3 separate regions of the Homo sapiens genome follow, and regions 2 and 3 are each linked to region 1. The links come from fine-mapping of genetic effects on gene expression. A gene starts in region 1. Each other region holds a variant in brackets. All regions are shown on one strand. Distances are from middle to middle. Region 1 holds the start of LIPC (lipase C, hepatic type). Region 2 has its middle 26 kb from the start of LIPC. Region 3 has its middle 64 kb from the start of LIPC.

Region 1 (4,242 bases):
TGGTCCCGCAGTGGAATGCTACAGCAGTGAGAATGAATGAGCCTCAACTCCACGAAACTGCATGGTTGACTTTCACAAACATAATGTCGAACGAAAGAAGCCAGACGCAAAAGAGCAACTGATGTGTTTCTATTAATGAAAAATCTCCCCAAAGGAAAAAATCATATATGTTAAGGCTCAAGGGGCACACAAGGAAGGCTTTGGGGTACTGGTTCAGTTTGTGAGAACTCATTGAGGATTTATGATAGAGGCCCTTTTCTAGAAGTGTGTTATAAACTTCATTAAAAAGTAAACAAACAAATACAACATTCCGGGGCAAAGGGCAGGAAAGGCCCTTTAGCAAAATCACTATGAACCAAGGGAATAAAGATTACCAGCAATTTTACCTGTATGGCTCTAAATTATTATGTAAGGGTCATTTTTGGATGTGGCTTTATAAATGAGATGATGTGTCAAAAATAATTAGTATAGTGCTTGGCACAGAAAATACTTAGTGAATGGCAATAATTAATACTGCTACTCAGTTATTAACTGGCCTATGAAGTAAAATAGTCAAATACAAAGGAACAGCCTTTTTCTTAAAGGGGAAAAAAGCTTCTGAAATTTTTAGGTACATCCCGTTAGGGAATTTCTAATTCTCAAAGTTGTCGGAGCTCTCTCCAAGGCTAGTCTTAGAGAAAAGAAAAATCTCAGACTCTACCTTAGCGTTACTAGCTCCTGACCAGTAACCAGTACCAAAACAAATTCCCAAACACCTGTCTAGTCTGGCCAAATTGTTCAATTAACTGATCCGTCATTTATTGGTCCACTGCTTAGCCTGGAAGCTGGGCTCCACTCTACTACCTTCCTGATAAGGCATTTGATCTGTCTTTCGCCATCAATCTAGTTTGTGAATTTACAAACAAAACAGGCAGGACGGCTGTTGGATTCTTCAGCCTCAGACTAAAATTTTGGCAGCAAAACAAAGTCTAGAAATTGTGCAATGATATCTCTACTTTAGACCTGACTGGAAATAGAACTCTCATAAATTCCCCTCTCTTCTGAGAGAGGCAGGCAATTAGACAACCCCAACCCGACAGAGCATTTCATTGCAAGCCTGGCTCCCCGGTTGCAAATTAGATGCCACATTAACTCTCAGGAAGATCTGAATCGCTTTCATATCATTTGCCGCTGAATAACTTTTAGCATGACTGTTTCCATATCAGATACGCAAGAGACTTCACTGCTAGCTGCAGGCACTCTTAGAAGACTTTTAATCCGAGGATGATTTTCTAAAATTTCATTTCTGTTTACAAACGGCTACGTGTCCCTGTGAACCTGTGAGGTCGTGTATAGAACCACCTGGCACGCTCTGAAGCAAGCTCTGTCCCATACAGTCAGAAACCCCTGGATTCTTTGTGACACACGTTTTAAAAAGAAAAGTTCATGCCCATCTCTGGAGAAAAGTCAGGCTCTTACCTGGTTTCAGGCTTTGTCCAAGGGCACTTGATTGGATAAAGATGCATAAAACCAACAGAATGGAGAAACACAGGGGACTTGTGTCCATTTCTCCGTTTCACCCGGGGTCCAGGCTTTCTTGGTAATTTCTGAAGCCAAAGAGACCACAATGCCTATTAGATACTTTGTTAGGGAAGACTGCCCATTAATAATTAACCTCTCAACATGTTATCCACTGTTCAGACCCTTTCTTTACTGCCCCCAACTGCAAATCTAATTATATCTATTTTAAAAAGGTCGATTTACAGAAGTGCTTCTTATCCTGACACATTTTGAGAATAAAATACCTTGTTATGTATTCTTACCTTTTGGGGCCAAGGTCAGAGTTCCAAATTAATCAACTTAAAGCTACTGTGTTGTGTTTGGAAATTCTGCCAAAGGTCGGGGTAGGTGGCTTCCACGTGGCTGCCTAAGCCTCCCTGTGACAGCGCTGCAAGGGGGATGCTGGCTCAGGAAAGTGGTGTTTCAAATTGCAGCCTAAGCCCAAAGAAAAAGAAAAGGGCCCTGCCACGCAGAGAGCCCCCAGAGGGTCCAAATTTCTGTTGGGTTCAGTGAAATTGGTGATGCTTGTGGTCAAAGTGTGGTGCAGAAAACCCTTCACCCCCGTGTCAAAAGGAGCTGACGAAGAAGCAAAGATGCCCTTGCCAAGTGACCCATTGAGAGGTGATCCTAGAGTAAACACACTTCTTCCCCCTCTGTGTTCATTAATGTTCCAGCTGTGTAGAGGACTGAAAAGTAAGGCCACTCAGCAAAATCAGGTAGGGAAAAGGCGACCATAGATGGCTTTTGTGATATTTTTGGACCTCTAGTTTTACTTTAACTTTCTTCATTTGTTCAACATTTATATATTTTGGTATGCCTACTAGGTGCCAAGCACTGTTGCAGGCACGTGGGGTATACAAGTCCTTATGTATCAGTGGAGGTTCTTACCTTCTGGAGTTGGATAACGGACAGTAGACATAATAAAGAAGAGATTTCTGGCCAGGAGCGGTGGCTCACTCCTGTAATCACAGCACTTTGGGAGGCGAGGAGGGCGGATCACGAGGTCAGGAGTTCGAGACCAGCCTGACCAACATGGTGAAACCCCATCTGTACTAAAAATACAAAAGTTAGCTGGGCGTGGAGGTGAGTGCCTGTAATCCCAGCTACTCAGGAAGCTGAGGCAGGAGAATCGCTTGAACCTGGGAGGCGGAGGTTGCAGTGAACTGAGATCGCGCCATTGTACTCCAGCCTGGGCGACACAGAGAGACTCCGTCTCAAAAAAAAAAAAAAAAAAATTAGGTAGACTGGTAGAATGTAATGGGAACCACTACAAGAAAAGCAGGGGGTTGGGGAGAAGGTAGGGATTTTAAGCAGAGTGGTTAGAGTGAATTGCATTGGGAAGTTAAACTTTCAGCAAAGGTTTGAAGGAAGTGAAGGAGTTGCCCCTGTGGACGTCTTGGGGAGGAGAGCTTCGGGCAGTCTGTGCAAAGGCCCTGAGGTAGGAGTATGCCTGGTGTGCTCCAGGAATAGCAAGGAGGCCAATGAATGGGGAGACATTGTAAGGACTTTGACTTTTATGCATTGACACATGGGGGGCGACTCTGAGCAGAAGGGTGATATGATTTGTATTATAGTTTTAAAATATCACTCTGGTTTGCAAGTGAGCCAGGGTGCAGTGGGGAGATCTGTTAGAAGGCTATTACAGTGGCCCAGTGAGAGGTGATGGTGGCGTGGCCCAGCATGGTAAAGGGCAACTGCGGAGTGGTGGATGGGTGGTGGATATATTTTGAAGGTAGAGCCCACAGGATTTTCTGACTGCTGAGTTGTGAGATGTGGGAGAAAGAGAGGAGTTAAGGATGACTTCCAGGTTTTTTGGCTTGAACAAGCAGATTAATGGGGTTGCTGTCAGCTGAGAAGGGGAAGCTGTGAGTGAAGCAGGTCTGTTGGGGGAAGATTAGAGATTCAGCCTTGGCCACGTGGGGCTTTGAGATGGCTCTTAGACATCCAAGTGGAAACGTTAAGCGGGCAAAATTAGATAACATGGTAATTATTGCCTGGACGAGCCTCATTCAAAGGGCCTTCTGAAGCCACCACCAGACTTGGACGATCTTGACCCAGTCTAAAGCTGTGTTCTGTCCTATGACTGTACCTTCCTCCCAAGCCCCGAAGCTTGCGGACCATCCCGTCAGATATACAATTTCTTTTTCTTTTTCTTTTTTTTTTTTGAGATGGAATCTTGCTCTGTCGCCCAGGCTGGAGTGCAGTGGCGCGATCTCGGTTCACTGCAACTTCCACCTCCCAGGTTCAAGCGATTCTAGTGCTTCAGCCTTCAGAGTAGGTGGGACTACAGGTGCCCACCACCATGCCTGGCTAATTTTTGTATTTTTAGTAGAGACGGGGTTTTACCATGTTGGTCAGGCTGGTCTCTAACTCCTGACCTTGTGATCCACCCACCTCGGCCTCCCAAAGTGCTGGGATTACAGGCGTGAGTCACCGTGCCCATCAGATATACAATTTCTGAGCAAGGACTTCTGCCTTGGATACTTGGCTGGCTCCTGCACAGTTAAGCAGAATCTGAAAGTTCCACTTTTTTTCCTATAAAGCTGGCACGTAAGACCAGCTGGCTACCCATCTCGGGCTCCTCTCCCCTGTGCCCACCCTCATCTCCTCTCCTCTGGGTACTGCCAGTAACCACCGCCACTCCCCATTTTATTCGGGACACAAACTCATCAAAAGACACCAGTGAATCCAAGTGCCTCTGAA
Region 2 (4,242 bases), 26 kb after region 1:
CTTAAGAGGTACCGGCAGAGAGAGAAGCCTGTTGTACATCTGGGCAAGGGTCTCGGTGAGGGAAGTTCATGTAATTTTTAAGCATAATCGTTGGGAGAAAATAAACAGCCTCTTTCATGTTAACCTTGCAAACTCAAATAGACAAAGTGAAGGCCAATGACTGGCGGTACTGCCTGGCTGAGGCTGGATGTGACTGCCTTGCCTGGGAACCTGTAGCCTGCCTCAGGTTTGCCTTTTATTCTCTTTACTTTCTAGTAACAGTGCTCACAGGACTTTCAATAAGCAAAGCCCAGAGGGGGAGAGTTGCTTTTGAAGCCACACTCTTGTCTGCCTCATTCATTTCAAACAGAGACACTTCTGAAAGAGACGAAGGCCTGTGTACAAACAACAATGCCCACTGCATTCTGTTGCCTTCAGCTGTGATGTGGTGGCTTTTGATTCTACACAGAAGGTCCTTGTTTCAGACACTGATTGATGGGTCTTCTGAATGGAGGAGGCAGCAAGAACAAATGAGCAAGGCCCCTGGTAAGGCCAGGTGCTTCAAGAGGATGGGCTGGAAAGTGCTTAAAATAAAAGGTAAACACAAGCCTCCACAACAGCAAAAAATACCAAGGCACTGAGTTCTGAGTGGTTGATAATTGGTAGTTCCTAAGGATTTCCACATGTTTGTGCAAACACATATAAGCTCCTTGGAGAACTCTGACCTGGAATTTCAGACTTTTTGGTGGAGGAACCAAAAGTTAAACCCAAATAGATGTCATAAAACAGGTAAAAGTAATTGAAATAAAGAGCACTGGAGGTCTGAGTCTGGTTTGAGGCAGTGAAACAGAAAATAATGCAGTGAAAGAACAGGTGATGGGGCATCTCCGTCTCAGAGAGGGTTGTGATTTTTCACCAGAAACCCATGGAAAGCCACATAAAGGCTCATTCTAAACACAATGGACAGTGTTAGGACCTGCTGTGAGGAAGCTGTATGAGATGTGCCTCCCTTCTCCATCAACCCTTGTCCTTCCGTTTTGCCTAACAGAAACAAACCAGTGAAAAATCCACATGAGAAATCTGGCTATACTCAGTACTTTTGCAAGAAAACACTATGAAACTCCCTGTGAGTCTGCATTCTTCATAGTCCGTGGGGGAGCGTGGTGCAGGCTGAGGAGATGGGGTGGGGATAGTGAGGGTGGAGGGAGAGGACGGGAAAGTTAAATGAAGCAGGGATCCTTGTCCTGATCAGTGGTTTTTATACATTATGTTCTTATAAAAAAATAATTTTCACCAGCTAGATGATGTTCTACTGTTTAACTAAATTAGGGGTGTTAAAATAGAGATCATAAGAATGACGGAATGGACTCTTTGTGGCAAAAAGATACTAAATTATAAACAAGACCCAAGGCCATGCCAGGGTAGGGTTAAGTCACACATCCCAACACTTAAAGAATAAACTAGGTTCTAATAGCTGCAAGGTTTTTCTTTTTCTCTAGCCGCTAAATAAGCACTGGCCTCTGGAGAAGCAATATTGAAATAATTGCAGCTCACCAACCACCAGACACTAACTCATCCATCTCCCTACCCCTTTTCTGCAAGCCATAACTACTACTTTGATTGGATAAGAGACTGATTTCAGTAACTTTCTCCTGGTTAAGAGTCCACTGACCATAGACTGGTTCTGGCCAGTTTACAGAGGCTTGCACAGAGTGCCTTCCTGTCCCCTGCTTCACCATTTGACCTATAGGACCTAATTGCAAGGAATTTAAATGTTAAGTCTGTACCCCAAAGTGAACATGGGACGCATGTAACATGCATGTTTGTTTACTAGGCATGTGTGTACCTGCCTTCGGGAATATTCATAGCTCTTCCTATAACCTGTTGAATATGTGTACTTAGCTAACCCGTTCATCACAAATTCCTGTTCTACTCTTTCCTCCCTCAAAGTGCCTGCTTTTGGTTTCTGCTGGAGGCTGTGCTTCCAAGCCTGTGGGATTTCCAGCCTGCAGGCTGCAACCCTTTATAAAAAACAAACCTCTCCTCTCCAATATTATAGCTCTGTGAATTTATGTTGACAGGTTAATAACTCA[A/G]TTTCACAGAAAAAAATTAAATCAGACACTCTTTTTTGCCCACCCAACAGCCCTTCTCTCCTTTAACTTTTCACTTGCAGAGTCCTACTTTTGATTGGCAGTCCACCTGTCCCTGTCATGATTCAGGGAAACTTGACCCTATCCTGAACTCCAGGAATAAGTCCTAATTACATATTTTTTAGTGGTAACTGTGGTAGGTAAAATTTTAAGATGGTCTTATGATCTTTACCCTCTGGTGTCACATCCATGAGTATGGCAAAAGGCTTATTATCTATATTATTATCTAATCACATGAGCCCTCTTTGGCTAGTGGCAGAAGTGGGGAAGTCAGAGAGATTCAAAGTATGAAAAGGATTCAGTACATCATTGCTGACTTTGAAGATGGAGGGTGCCAGGTACCAGGACTGAGAGTGGCCTTTGGCATTGAGACTAGTCCCTGGTTGACAGCCAGCAAGGCCATGGAGACCTCAGTCCTACAATTGCAAGGAGCTGAATTTTGCTCACAACCTGATTGGGTGTGGAAGTGAATTCTTCCCAAGTCTCTAGATGAGAGGTTAGCCCTGCTAACACTTTGATTCTAGCCTTGTAAGTACATGAGCAGAGAACCCACTCAAGCCTTCCTGGACTTCTGACCTATATAGAACTGTGAGAATCTAAGTGGGCATTGTCTTAAGCTGCTAAGTCTGTGGTTATTTATTTTGCAGCAATAGCAAACGAGTAGAGCAACAGATATATAGTGTCAAGAAATCCAATCCATATTTCTGTTCAAGAGGAATTCGTTTTCAGCTCTGACCCTGACCAGGAATCAGAAAGTTACCTATGGTAGAAGGGGTGGATTAGTTATCCAATAACCCTCTTGACTTTTTTCCTTATGCACAGCACCACACACCCACTATGAAGGTCACAAATACTGGATTCTTGCTTTCCTAGCTACCCTTGCTGCTGGAGTGGTCATGTGACTGGGATATGCCTTTGGCCACAGACCTCTGAGAACACTAGACTAGAGCTGTAGCAGCCATTTTATAGCCACGAGGCAACAAGTCTAAGGATGGTAGAGTGGAAAGAAAGGAAGGTCTTGTTTGTTTCATGACAATTTTGAGCTAAGGTGCCATCTCTGGAATTGCCTGCATTCACATCTTTTGTTATATAAGATAATTAAATGTCTTTATTGCTTAAGTCTTTGTTAGTTGGGTTTTCTCTTGCTTGCAACTGAACATGTCCTTACTAATACATTACCCTTCCCAACAAAAAGTATAGAAGGCAAAATGCAGAGACATCTGAGGTAGAGCGAGTACAGAGTTGAGGATCAGGCTTTTGGCACAAGTAAGAAAAATTACGTAGGTATTCAGGGGCATGAAGACAAGTCGCCTTTGGGTGACATCTAGAACTATTAAAAACTAGTGAAATTCACACATTGGGAGACTTCCATCTCAAGATGTTCTCTGACTCTCCGTTTTCTATTTTTTGAGATTCTTGCCCATTGCGGAAAAGTACAGATGGTCATGGACTGATGATATACTAAGCCTTAGTCTTATGACTGGGATCATTCCTCTGACCCCAGTGAGCATCAGTTTACTCATCTGCAGAGTGCAGATAGGATAATAACCCCTTACGTCACTTGGTTTTGTGAGAATCAGATTTGAGTGTGTACGTGAACTTGCTTTGGAAGCTTTAAAGAACAGCTTTGGTGTGATGTCAGAACCTAGCTTGGTGTCTGGCACATAGTAGGTGTGCTCATTACATATTTGTTGGATTACTGTGCCGTGCCTATTTGTCTATACCAGCTTTGTTTGCACTGCACCATGAGCTTGCTGTCTGACTAATTGCTCCATATTGCATCTACTCTAGATAAAACTTAAAGGATTTTATTAAATGCTTTCTTCTTGGCAGTGGTATATTAGGTACTGCAGCCTGGATGGAGAATTTAGCATTTGTTTCCTATGTATTTTCCACTAAATATGCTGTGACAAGATGTCTGTTTTGATCAGGGACACTGTCAATTATTCCTCTCTCAGCCCGACTTTCTCTATGATGTAGGGTGTGAAGACATCTGTTGGCTTTAACCTATCACTCTTGTGTGAGATGCCTTGGCTTCACTCAACAGGGCTGTGTCCAAGGCAGGCTGGCCCCCCGTGAACTCTCAGGCTGCCGAGTCAGTCATCCGCCAGGT
Region 3 (4,242 bases), 64 kb after region 1:
GGTCTTCTGTATTCCTGTCATTTTCTCTGTACAACCCTGTGTCTCTATCAACCAAACCATCTACAAGCATCTGCAGGAATCTACTGGTTAGCAAGCATGCTCCCAGACATTTGGGGTGGGAGGAGATACAAATAGAAAAATAGAAAAATACCAGTTTACAGCTATATAAGAAAGCTGCTAGTAACAACTCCAGACCAGTGCTAACAGAGATACACACACACGCATGCACGCACACACACACACACACACACACAGAGACAGAGAGAGAGAGAGAAAGAGAAAGCAAGCAAGCAGGGGAGACGGGGGAGAGTCCGTGTGAGAGTGAGCTTGTTCACTGGAGTGGTCACAGAAGCTTGGATGGGCCTGGGAGGATTCAGTTCATTATTTACTCAGGCAACAAGGATGTGGTGAACCAGAATCTGGGCTGGGTACAGGAAAAAGGCTACATTCCTGCAGATATTGATGGTCTAGCTGGAGAGATATATGCGCCAACAAGGATTACAGTGAGTATAGCAAGTGCTACTGTAGAAGCCAGGGGTGCTGTAGGGCCCCAGAGAAAGGTGATGGACCCAACTGAGCACCAGGAGGAAGAGAGGATTTAGTAGGATATATGAGGCAGTGCAGTGATAATGTAAGGTGGCAGGTAGATCTGTAGGAGGGGCACCATGAGGGTACAAGTGAGCTGGAAGGAGGCGTGGAGAGAAGTGGGCATGGGGACTGGGGACACAGGGACTTCAGAGACACGTGGGATATGGGAGAATTTGCCTTGAGACTCTCACAGTGTCTTTCCAAACCTGTTGTACTTCACTGCATCCTTAGCATTCTCTCTCTTTTTTTTTTTTTTTAAACTTTAAGTTCTGGGATACATGTGCACAACGTGCAGGTTTGTTACATAGATACACGTACCATGGTGGTTTGTTGCACCCATCACCCTGTCATCTACATTAGGTATTTGTCCTAATGCTATCCCTCCCCTTGCCCCTGACTCCCTGACAGGCCCCAGTGTGTGATGTCCCTCTCCCTGTGTCCATGTGTTCTCATTGTTCAACTCCCACTTATGAGTGAGAACATGCAGTGTTTGGTTTTCTGTTCCTGTGTTAGTTTGCTGAGAATGATGGTTTACGGCTTCAACAATGTCCCTGCAAAGGACATGAACTCATCCTTTTTCATGGCTGCACAGTATTCCATGGTGTATATGTGCCACATTTTCTTTATCCATTCTATCATTGATGGGCATTTGGATTGGTTCCAAGTCTTTGCTATTGTGAATAGTGCCACAGTAAACATACGTGTGCATGTGTCTTTATAGTAGAATGATTTATAATCCTTTGGGTGTATACCCAGTAATGGGATCGCTTGGTCGAATGGTATTTCTGGTTCTAGATCCTTGAGGAATCACCACACTGTCTTCCACAATGGTTGAACTAATTTATACTGCCACGAACAGTGTAAAAGTGTTCCTATTTCTCCACATCCTCTCCAGCATCTGTTGTTTCCTGACTTTTTAATGATTGCCATTCTAACTAGTGTGAGATGATATCTCATTGTGGTTTTGATTTGCATTTCTCTAATGACCAGTGATGATGAGCTTTTTTTCGTATGTTTTTTGGCCACATAAATGTCTTCTTTTGAGGAATTTCTGTCCATATCCTTTGCCCACTTTTTGATGGGGTTTTTGTCTTTTTCTTGTAAATTTGTTTGAGTTCTGTGTAGATTATGGATATTAGCCCTCTGTCAGATGGATAGATTGCAAAAACTTTCTCCCATTCTGTAGGTTGCCTATTCACTCTAATGATAGTTTCTTTTTCTGTGCAGAAGCTCTTTAGTTTAATTAGATCCCATTTGTCAATTTGGGCTTTTGTTGCCATTGCTTTTGGTGTTTTAGTCATGAAGTCTTTGCCCATGCCTATGTCCTGAATGGTATTGCCTAGGTTTTCTTCCAGGGTTTTCATGGTTTTAGGTCTTACATTTAAGTCTTTAATCCATCTTGAGTTAATTTTTGTATAAGGTGTAAGGAATGGGTCCAGTTTCAGTTTTCTGAAGCCATTTTTCCCAAGGCCACTTATT[A/C]AATAGGGAATCCTTTCCCCATTTCTTGTTTTTGTCAGGTTTGTCAAAGATCAGATGGTTGTAGGTGTGTAGCATTATTTCTGAGGCCTCTGTTCTGTTTGATTATTCTATATATCTGTTTTGGTACCAGCAGCATGCTGTTTTGTTTACTGTAGGCTTGTAGCATAGTTTGAAGCCAGGTAGCGTGGTGCCTCCAACTTTGTTCTTTTTGCTAAGGATTGTCTTGGCTATATGGGCTCTTTTTTGGTTCCATATGAACTTTAAGGTAGTTTTTTTTCTAGTTCTGGCAACAAAGTATATGGTAGTTTGATGGGGAAAGCACTGAATCTATTAATTACTTTGGGCAGTGTGGCCATTTTCACAATATTGATTCTTCCTATCCATGAGCATGGAATGTTTTTCAATTTGTTTGTGTCCTCTCTTATTTCCTTGAGCAGTGGTTTGTAGTTCTCCTTGAAAAGGCCCTTCACATCCCTTGTAAGTTGGATTCCTAGGTATTTGATTCTCTTCGAAGCAATTGTGAATGGGAGTTCACTCATGATTTGGCTCTCTGTTTGTCTATTATTGGTGTATAGGAATGCTTGTGATTTTTGGACATTGATTTTTTATCCCAAGACTTTGCTGAAGTCGCTTATCAGCTTAAGGAGATTTTGGGCTGAGACAATGGGGTTTCCTAAATATACAATCATGTCATCTGCAAACAGAGACAATTTTACTTCCTCTTTTCCTGTTTGAATACCCTTTATTTCTTTCTCTTGCCTGATTGCCCTGGCCAGAACTTCCAATACTATGTTGGATAGGAGTGGTGAGAGAGGGCATCCTTATCTTGTGCCAGTTTTCAAAGGGAATGCTTTCAACTTTTGCCCATTCAGTATGATATTGGCTGTGGGTTTGTCATAAATAGCTCTTATTATTTTGAGATACGTTCCATCAATACCTAGTCAATTGAGAGTTTTTGGGAGAAAGGGGTGTTGAATTTTATTGAAGGCCTTTTCTGCATCTATTGAGATAATCATGTGGTTTTTGTCATTGGTTCTGTTTACGGTGATTGGATTACATTTTTTTGATTTGCATATGTCGAACCAGCCTTGCATCCCAGGGATGAAGCCGACTTAATCATCAGTGGATAAGCTTTTTGATGTGCTGCTGGATTTGGTTTGCCAGTATTTTATTGAGGATTTTCACCTCAATGTTCATCAGGGATATGGGCCTGAAATTCTCTTTTTTTGTTGTGTCTCTGCCAGGTTTTGGTATCAGGATGAGGCTGGCCTTATAAAATGAGTTAGCGAGGAGTCCCTTTTTTTCTACTGTTTGAAATAGTTTCAGAAGGAATGATACCAGCTCCTCTTTGTACCTCTGATAGAATTCAGCTGTGAACACATCTGGTCCTGGGCTTTTTTTTTTTTTTTTTTTTTTGGTTGGAAGGCTATTAATTACTGCCTCAATTTCAGAATTTGTTATTGGTCCATTCAGGGATTTGACTTCTTCCTGCTCGAGTCTTGGGAGGGTGTATGTGTCCAGGAATTTATCCATTTCTTCTAGATTTTCTAGCTTATTTGCGTAAAGGTGTTTATAGTATTCTCTGATGGCAGTATGTATTTCTTTGGGATCAGTGGTGATATCCCCTTTAACATTTTTTATTGTGTCTATTTGATTCTTCTCTTTTTTCTTCATTAGTCTGGCTAGTGCTCTATTTTGTTTATCTTTTCAAAAAACTGGCTCCTGGATTCGATGATTTTTTTGAAGGGTTTTTCACATTTCTATCTCCTTCAGTTCTGCTCTAATCTTAGTTATTTCTTGTCTTCTGCTAGCTTTTGAATTTGTTTGCTCTTGCTTCTCTAGTTCTTTTAATTGTGATGTTAGGGTGTCAATTTTAGATCTTTTCTGCTTTCTCCTGTGGGCATTTAGTGCTATAAATTTCCTTCTAAACACTGCTTTAGCTGTGTCCCAGAGATTCTGGTATGTTGTGCCTTTGTTCTCATCGGTTTCAAAGAACTTATTTACTTCTGCCTTAATTTCGTTGTTTACCTGGTAGTCATTCAGGAGAAGGTTGTTCAGTTTCCATGTAGTTGTACGGTTTTAAGTGAGTTTCTTAATCCTGAGTTCTAATTTGATTGCACTGTGGTCTGAGAGACTGTTTCTTATGATAGCCATTCTTTTGCATTTGCTGAGGAG

What was found. PIP is the estimated chance that this variant, and not a neighbour inherited with it, causes the effect. A credible set is the group of variants that fine-mapping cannot tell apart.
Region 2: its variant is the best candidate, but not a certain one, in a credible set for the expression of LIPC in whole blood (INTERVAL, PIP 0.57).
Region 3: its variant is the best candidate, but not a certain one, in a credible set for the expression of LIPC in whole blood (INTERVAL, PIP 0.81).

The regions. Positions count from the first base shown.
Region 1 is chr15:58,429,337-58,433,578 of GRCh38, reverse strand. It overlaps LIPC (lipase C, hepatic type), which reads right to left and starts at 1,588. Exons shown (of 9, transcript NM_000236.3): 1 at 1,459-1,588. The coding sequence starts at 1,546. RefSeq lists a silencer at 3,275-3,569 and an enhancer at 3,275-3,569.
Region 2 is chr15:58,403,701-58,407,942 of GRCh38, reverse strand. No RefSeq gene overlaps it. Among named protein-coding and RNA genes, the nearest start is that of LIPC, 26 kb to the left of the region's middle. The variant A/G (reference allele first, on the strand shown) is at 2,073.
Region 3 is chr15:58,365,652-58,369,893 of GRCh38, reverse strand. No RefSeq gene overlaps it. Among named protein-coding and RNA genes, the nearest start is that of LIPC, 64 kb to the left of the region's middle. RefSeq lists an enhancer at 395-574. The variant A/C (reference allele first, on the strand shown) is at 2,068.